Linked DNA regions of Homo sapiens. The protein of the gene in region 2 purifies or fractionates together with the protein of the main gene of each other region. This does not show direct contact. Each region holds a gene or a part of one and is shown on either strand. Other genes may lie near its edges.

Region 1 (3,500 bases), on a different chromosome or scaffold from region 2:
TGGGGACGGAGGGTGTTCCTGGAAGAGGAAGCCTGTGTGTGTGAACGATGGGGCTGTTCAGGTTGGCTGGAGTGCCAGAACATGGGGAACATGCGGACAGCTCTACTGGGCTGGCAGAAGAGGGGACAGTCTCCTGTGGAAGAGGAGGTGGCTGGAAAGCCCCAGCTGCACTCTGGGATGGGGACGACTGGGTGACTCTGGGCTAAGGGTCCCTGGGAGCAGATGAGGGCCCTGGGCACGTGGGGCTCACCGTGGAATGCTTCCAGTAGAGGATGATCTCGGGGATGTTTTCCACGGGGTGGAGGAGGTGGTAGTCTCTCCACTCGTTCCAGTCAATGGTCATCGTGCCGTTTTTATCCATGCTGCAAGACAGAGGCGAGGCTGCCCACGTGCCCACATGCCCATCCGCCAGCTGCATCCCCCCACCTCCCAGTGAGCCAAGGGCAGGCATTCGGATGCCCAGAAACCACACGAGGTGCCTCTGCCCCCAGGAGAAAGAGCAGGGGGCTCCACACCCCACTTAGCACAACAATGGCAATATAATGGCCCACAAGAATCCCGCTCTGATCAGGCATGGAAGTCAAGGGAGGCAGTCATGAGCGACATGGATACTTACTAGGTGACAGGGCCCCAGAAATGGCCCGTTCGTATTCTGACAGACAGACAAAGGATGCGGAGGAGAGAGCAGAAACAACACGCATAAGTGCTCGGAGCCATGTTAGTGAAGCAAGCACACACCCAGAGACAGGGGCACAGCACGGCACGAGACGAGCCCGCCACAGCAGCTGAGCCCAGGGCTGCTGTCCCCGAGGACCAGCCAGTGTTCAGACCGCAGGGTTTCCGGAAGGTCCAGCCAGGACAGACGGCAACTCCCAGGGCTGTTCCATGAGATTTCCTGGCAGCCGCCCCGCACCAGGGAGCTATCTTTTGGGGCAGCGCCTCTGACTAAAGTGTTAAGTGCAAGTTACCAGCATGGGGAAGAAATTCACCTGGGAACGAGGCTGCAGTGTGAGCCCCCCGCCCCGCCCCGCCCCCTCCACACGCACAGGTGCTCCTTGCTGGCCTTTTACCTATTTGAACCACCCCCAAATTAGTTTTCCCTTCATGGGCCACTGGCCGATGGGCAAAATTCCAGGTGATCTGTGATTCTTCCAATGAAAGCAGGCCTGCAACCCTGGGGAGGGGCTGGCCTCCCACAGGGGTTACTTATTCATCCTTTCAAACCACGAGAAGGCCAAGTTCAGGGTCAGCCCAGGGAATGGCATCGGAGGGTTAGTCTCAGAGCCTTCCCTTCATCACACTTAAACCAAACACAGAGGCTGGCTGAGCACTCACCTCTTGAGAATTTTTTCTGCCTGCTGTTCAGATATCTTGACTCCCAAGTCCCGCAGGGACTGCATGATCTCCTGCGCGTCAATGCGTCCTGCAAGAACAGAGGCCGTGAGCAGGAGCCAGGCGCACGGGGAGGCCCGAGGCTGGACCGGCCACAGCTCTGAAGGCAACACTTACCATCATTCTTTTTGTCCAAACTCTTAAACACCAGCCTCAGCTTCTTCTCATGATCTTGGAGATAATGGACAAATTCTTCAAAGTCTAGCTGCCCATCAAGGTCCTTATCTCCAGCTTGTACAATTTTCTAGAAAAGAAAGGTAACATTTTGTCTTTTGGCTCCTGGACCAGCCTTTCCTTGTCCCTTGTGGGGCCCCATCCCCAGGCAATGACTTCACTAATTGCGAGCAGAGCTGGCCCCAAGGACCCAAGATGCTTCTGCTCCACTCTCAGAGCCACCATGGCAATCGACTTACATGCCAGAGCCACCACCTAGAACCCCAGGTGCTGGCCAGAACCCAGGCAAGGGCCAATCTTGTCTCCCTCTCAAGCAGAGAGGAAACAAGGAGCCTGGGAAGAGCCCTCCGGACAGAGGCCGACAGGGACAGCTGGGCACTTTCTCAGTCTGAAGACCTGCGTGCCGTACAGCCAGGGTGAGCAGGGTGGCTTCGCTGCAGCGCCGTCCCTGGGTCCCTGGACCCAGGCTTCAACCACACATGCTCCCTGCTGAGACTTGGGGATGGCCATGGAGTCCAGTTTCTGACAGGAACTCTGCAGCTCGCTGTTTCTCTCCTAAAACTGGCATTGGTCCGAGAATAATTTGGTGGGCAGGTGAAAATCGGGGGCAGAGCCAGACTCTGCCACAGCACCCGAGGCCGGGGAAGTGTAAGGAGCCAAGGGCATGTGTATGATGGTACTGCCAGTCCCTGCTCTCAGGGAAGCCAGGTGATAGAGCTGCCCTGGCTCTCCCGCTCACTCACTGAAAAGCACTTTAGTGTCCCAAGAAGGCTTTGAGAGACTGTTCCTTGGCAATGAGGTTCCAAAAGTAACCCCCCCCGCCCCCGCCTCCCAGGAGGTGGGCTTTGTTCAGCAGCTGTTAATGGTTGGCAACTGGGACAGCTCCACGAGAGCACACATTTCCCCAGCACCTAGCACCGGCCGCAGGGCGTGCCAAATGCTTTACTTCTAGCAACCCACTTACCCCCCTCGCAAACAGCTCTAGGAGGTAGGAAATGTCATTTCCCCCATTTTACAGAGAAGGAAACAGGAGTTCCGAGAGCCTAAACATTTACACAAGGTCAGACAGCTAGGGAAGTGGTGGGCGGGATGCAAGTTGGGCCGTGGTCCTCCCAAGCCGCCTCCCTGCACATCCTGCCGCCACCCTCAAGGCTAACCTTCAGAACATGGGGGATGAAAGTGAGTCACCCCAACTCAGCAACGCCCTGAATCCGGAACCCAAAACTGGGACCGAGAATCTCCCAAGGAAGATGGTATAGTCTTCCTGTGTCCTCCGGATTTCTCACTGGGAGAAATCAACTGACAGCCAGCTGGGGTTTGGAAATGGATGGCCCACTGGCTAGCTCGCGTCCTCAAAGGATCACCACCGCGCCTCTCTCTTAGACACACTACTGACAGCGCCTTGTGATTCCTCAGCTGCCAAAGGTGTCAGGGGCAGGGAGGCCTGAACAGATACCCCATGACCTGGCGCGATCAAAAGGCTAATGTGAGGGGCGTGGCTGGAATGTAGGACAGATGCAGGTACATATTTTATCTGCTGAGGTTACATTTAACTTCCTGTGGACATCTGTGCTCTCAGACAAGAGTGACATAAATCACCTATAGGGTGACTGCTCCAAATCTCTAACAGGAATGGAAATAGAGTGGACAAGCCATTTAGGCAGGAGGCGAACATCAGGCATGGAGCCCTCTGGGACCCAGCCGCCTGCTGCCAGGGTGAGCCACATGCCTCCCTGGGGTGGGTGCTGTCGCAGACACCCAGAGCAGAGGGTGTGCTCACCGCAGCTGGCTTCAACGCATTCTCAAAGTGCTTGCTTCTGCCTCACAGGGCCTGGGCCTCCTTCTGTCTCCTTCCTTGGATCTGCAAATCCCCCTTGGTGCACAGTGGGCACTGGGGGTAGCAGGGAAACTGATTAACCGAGAAGCCGAGGTGG
Region 2 (5,044 bases):
GTTGGCCTGAGCTGTTAACTGACGCTGCAGGCCCAGCAACTGCTCCAGTCTCTGCTTCCACGAGATTGTCAAATTGGGCAGCAGTTGGGAAATCAATGGATATCTTCCCAGTATAAATCCCAAAATGTTCCTGAAATGGGGTTACTTCTGTCCCAATTGAGACAGACGTTTCAAATTCCAAATAAGAGGTAGTAGGGTACAACAGGTTAGTTACAGAGGTACCTTCATGTGTGAGATCTTTGGTAACTTGTATAGAATCCAAATTATTTTGGGGCTTATGTGAATTTACTATCATGCTAACTTCTTCAGGGTAACTAGAGGAAGATGACACACTATCAATACCACCATTTAAAAAATGGATGTTCTCTTTCTTTCTGTAAGATGAGGATTTCTTTTCCAATTTCAGCACAGAAGGTACTTTAAGGAAGCTTGAGTCCTCAGATGCAGAAGAATTTTTTTCCAAACTGGAATCAGAATCCAGAAAAGGTGAATTTACTTTCATGCTGCCAGTTTCTTGGAATTTAGGGGAAATATTAGTTAAGCTGAGTTCCGCCATTTCTGAGTGACCAGAAATCTTTTTAGTCCCACAAATATCCAAAGATTGATGAAACACACAAGTGTGAGCTTCACAATTCTGCGCCATTTGCCTACTGATTTTTTCATCATGAATAGGTGGTAAAATCCAAGATATATTACTTTTAAGAAGAGCAGGAGGAGAGCCTAAGGCATCTACCTCTGGTTCTGGCTTATCTTCATATTTGGAGGCAGCAGGAGAAAGCTCAGCTTGGCAATTCTCTTTAAGGCCAGCATCTGAACATTTCTCTCCTATCTCATTATGATTAATTGATTGAAAACGTTTGCCCTGTTCAACTTCTAGAAAGGTTAATTCTGACAAAATAGGCTTTTCTGGAACATGGGTAATTTTCAATGGAAAAGAAGACATTTTATCCTGAGAAATGTTTCTGGGCTCCACTTTTGAAAGAGATACCTTGGACAAGGATATAGTTTTTCCTCTTCCAGAATGTGACTCCACAAGAACATTGTTCTGACCATCAATTTCAGCTTTTGATACAATGTTAGCAGTTTTGGCTTCCAAGGAAAGAGAATCAGACTTCTCTATTATGCTCATATTTGCTTTAGTGTTTGAAGACACTAACTCTACTCTATTAGGGTCTTGAGATAAAATGGAACTGCAATCCTTAGAGAGGTTTCCAGAGTCAAAGCTCAATAGCTCCAACCCAGTTAAGTGAGGGCCACTGGCTTCAGAACCTGGAAGAACCTGGCATTTTTCACTATTAGAAAGAACTTCTTTGAATTCAAAAATTGCAGATGTATATTCAAGGCAAAAGGAAGGAGGAGGACTCTTCCTGCCTGCAGCCTCAACATGGTTTTTCACATTTTCTTCTTTACACTTCCTAGGCTGATAGGAAATACCAACAATGTTGACATTCCCAGTTTCAATGGGCACAGGAGAACCCTCATTCATTAAATCAGGAATATCCAACTTGCTCAGCATCCCAACTCCAGAAACAAAGGTAGGAGGTGAAATACTGAAATTTAGTTTTTTACAGTCAAGGCTAAGAGATGTTTTAGCATCAGGTGATACTTCAGCTTGTTGAGGACTCTCAGAGTCAAGAGGAGTTTCTGAAATGTGACTTCTATTAAGTTCAAATTTCAACTCAGGTGCATTTTCATTTCCTAAGCTTGCTACAACTGCTGATTCACTGATGTAATTTAAAGAGGCCAGGTCTTTTTTATTCATTCTAATATGAGGAATTTTATCATGTGACCTAAAATCAAGCTTTTTGGCTTTGGTTTCAAAGTATTGGTCAGTATCTTTGGGTAATGACTCAATTTTATCTTCTGGAGCTTTTACATGACTTGAAGCTATGGATTCACCAGCTGAGGCACTTTCTGTTTCTCGCCTGATTTCTCTAACAGCCACATTTTTCTGTGAGTCTTGGGCAGACAATCTCTTTCCTTCATTTACAAATTCTGTGTCTGTCACAGCATGTCTCTGAAGAGCAATGATATTGGTGTGAGTGGCAGCTTGCTTTGATGAGCTATCTATGGTTTGCTTGTCAGAACACTCACTCTCTGGCAACTGCAGATGTTCATGCCTAATTGATTTATTTGGACTTGGCAAATTTGTACTTTCCTGCTCAGTAGTGTCACTCCCATCAGATTTACTACAAGAGAAATCAGAAATAGCAGGGCCCTGAGGCTCAACAAGCTCCTCTCTTTGCACCAATGTCCTATTACTCATCACAGTGCTGTTTTCTTTTATCGTATTTTCTGTTGTAGTTACTCTCTGAAAATCTGGGCTGCAAGGGACTTTGCGATGGTTACTTCCTGTTAACAATGCTGAACATACCAAATTTCTGTTAGTCTGAGAAACCGGTTCACAACTTAAATGGTGCTGTGAGTCAGATTCTCCATCGTAGCTGGAGTTAGTCACAGAAGAAGGGGATGACCTATTTCTCTCAATACTCCCCCAAGCATTTTTATTTAAAAGATTATTGGAAGAGGCAATATTCTGCAGTTCTGGGTTATTTGTCAAAGAATTTTCCTTGTTGAAACTTGTTTTGCTACAATCAGAGTCTTCTAATGGGCCTTCAAGTAGATTTCCTTTCATAGATGAGTCTGTACTAGCTGATAACAACAGTGGCAGTACCCCAGCCTCAATCTCACTTCCAGGGTCAATGTGTCTGTTTGTACTAGAGTCAGAACTTTCATTTTCTCTGTCCAAGGTATTCACAGTTGCCAAGCCTGTCTGTTGCTTTAAATATTTCCCAATGTGTCTTGGGCCTCGATATGTTGCATATGTTACTGAAGGCTTCTCTGGTTTACCATCGATTTGTCTGTAAAAAGAAAGCATGAGAGTATCAGGAAATATAATTAATAATACTTAATACTAATCCCAGCAACTGTGGTAAAAGTACATCTTTTAAACACCACTTCCCTTAATATGTACCAATTTGGGGAGTAAATCCTAGAACGCTTTAAATTTACCTTTATTAAAAATAATAAAAATTTAACAAGTAGCACCTGAATGTCAATGCAGCATGAAGAATGTTTGACCTCCTTAGAATTACTCCTTCTTACCTGATTACATACATACCTCTGACTGTGGTTAACAGAATATGAGTCCAAGCCTTGGGTCCTAGTTCTAATCTCAAAGGAGTGTCTGACTCTAAGTAACCAGCTTGACTTTGGGCCTCATATTACTACGAGTTTAGGGATACATCACTGACTTCTCCACCACATTAAAGCATCATAATGACCTTCTATTCCTTTACTCTTACATGTGAATTTGAACAGCAATGTTTAGCACGTAACTTGGAAACGTTTTAAATGAAAACAGATGGCAAAATGTCTAGCCCACAGTAAACACTCAGTATGTATTTGTTAACTCAATAAATGACAAAACTGCATTAAAATTCTCTGTGTTCAGTTCTTCAAATATTCATTTAGTATAGTATTAAACTGCTTGGGCAAATGCAAAAATCAAAAAAGATGTCTAGAGTAAGTATAGAAATCTAACCACAGTATAAAGATCCTGATGCTCTCAGCACCCAATTTCCTTTGGAGAATCTACCACTACGAGTTCTCACATCACGCCATACTATCTTATAGCCAATTACACACATCATTCTCTGCCCTTTAATGCCAGCATCAGAAGGAAACTCTAATGCCCTCTAAGACTCAGCACACAAATAATTTCCACTGCAAACCTATCCCTCTACTACTAAGATGGACAGTTAGTCTTTGATCTCTGGGTGCACAGAGCACAACATTTGTCACATTAAATCATAAAGATCTATGCACTTATTTATTTTCCCCACTAGCCTGGTGGCTATTTGAGGGAAGGTACTGTGTCCTAATCATCTTTCTGTTTTTAAGTGCCCCACACAAGATTTGGCAAGTTGTATATGCTTAATACCTTCTCATGAATTAATGAATAAGTAAAGGAATGATACTTACTGCTAAGTAATCTATTTCAAAAGAATGTCTTAATTCTTATATGTGATAATCAAAATGTTTTACATTTTGAACTCTAATTACCTTTCAATTTCCTGACTATAAAAAATAGCATGCACTCATATGTTCATCACAGCACTATCCACAATAGCAAAAACATGAAATCAACCTAGATGTCCATCAATGGTAGATTGGATAAAGAAAATGTGGTACATATATGCCATTGAATACTAAGCAGCAATAAAAAAGAAGAAAATCGTGTCCTTTGCAACAACATGAATGCAGTGGAGGCCATTATCCTAAGTGAATTAACACAGGAAAACCAAATACTACATGTTCTCACATATAAGTGGAAGGTAAACGTTGAGTACACATAGACCCAAAGAAGGGAACAATAAACACTGGGGCCTAATTGAGTGGGGAGGATGGGAAGAGGGTGAGGACTAAAATACTACCTGTCAGGTACTATGTCCATTACCTGGGTGACGAAATAATCTGTACACCAAACCCTCACAACATGCAATTTATCTCCATGTAATAAACCTGCATATGCACCCCAACTCTAAAATAAAAGTTGAAATTATTTTTTAAAAAAACAGTATGGTAGAAAAATCTGATGTGTGTTCTACTTGATTTTTTTCTGATTAAACATATGATTAACCAAACCATTACTGTGAAATACACATGAATAATTTCGAAATTCAGTTATCAGTATTCCAATACCTAAAAAATACATTTTATTGCCAACTTTAAAGCAGTTACATTAAGAATTCTAGATTTGTCTAATTGATAAAAGAGAAAGTATATCTCTTTTCACATGTAAAAACTTCACCAACTGTGTCTCTTAAATACTTCTTAAATTTTAGCTGAAATAATTCATTTCAACCTATATATCTCCTGGCCCCTTAAAATACTAATGCACCAGTATTGTAAAAAATTATGTTAGTTATATTCATTTATTTTTATTGTCCATTATAAAGCACTAAAGGAGATGCATAAAGAAAAGCTTTGTGTTCCAAAAATGGTTTTAGTTGCTGCATGAATTTCAGGCTAGATCAAGGAC

Evidence for each region. The genes of interacting proteins can lie anywhere in the genome.
Region 1: the proteins of CRYBG3 (region 2) and SLC25A25 purify together in Homo sapiens (co-immunoprecipitation; one large-scale study listed by IntAct). This does not show direct contact.

The regions. Positions count from the first base shown.
Region 1 is NC_000009.12:128,099,232-128,102,731, reverse strand, and holds part of SLC25A25 (mitochondrial adenyl nucleotide antiporter SLC25A25), read right to left. Parts: intron 1,637-3,500; coding exon 1,510-1,636; intron 1,424-1,509; coding exon 1,336-1,423; intron 653-1,335; coding exon 617-652; intron 363-616; coding exon 251-362; intron 1-250. UniProt on the Homo sapiens protein: Electroneutral antiporter that most probably mediates the transport of adenyl nucleotides through the inner mitochondrial membrane.
Region 2 is NC_000003.12:97,869,659-97,874,702, reverse strand, and holds part of CRYBG3 (very large A-kinase anchor protein), read right to left. Parts: intron 2,862-5,044; coding exon 1-2,861.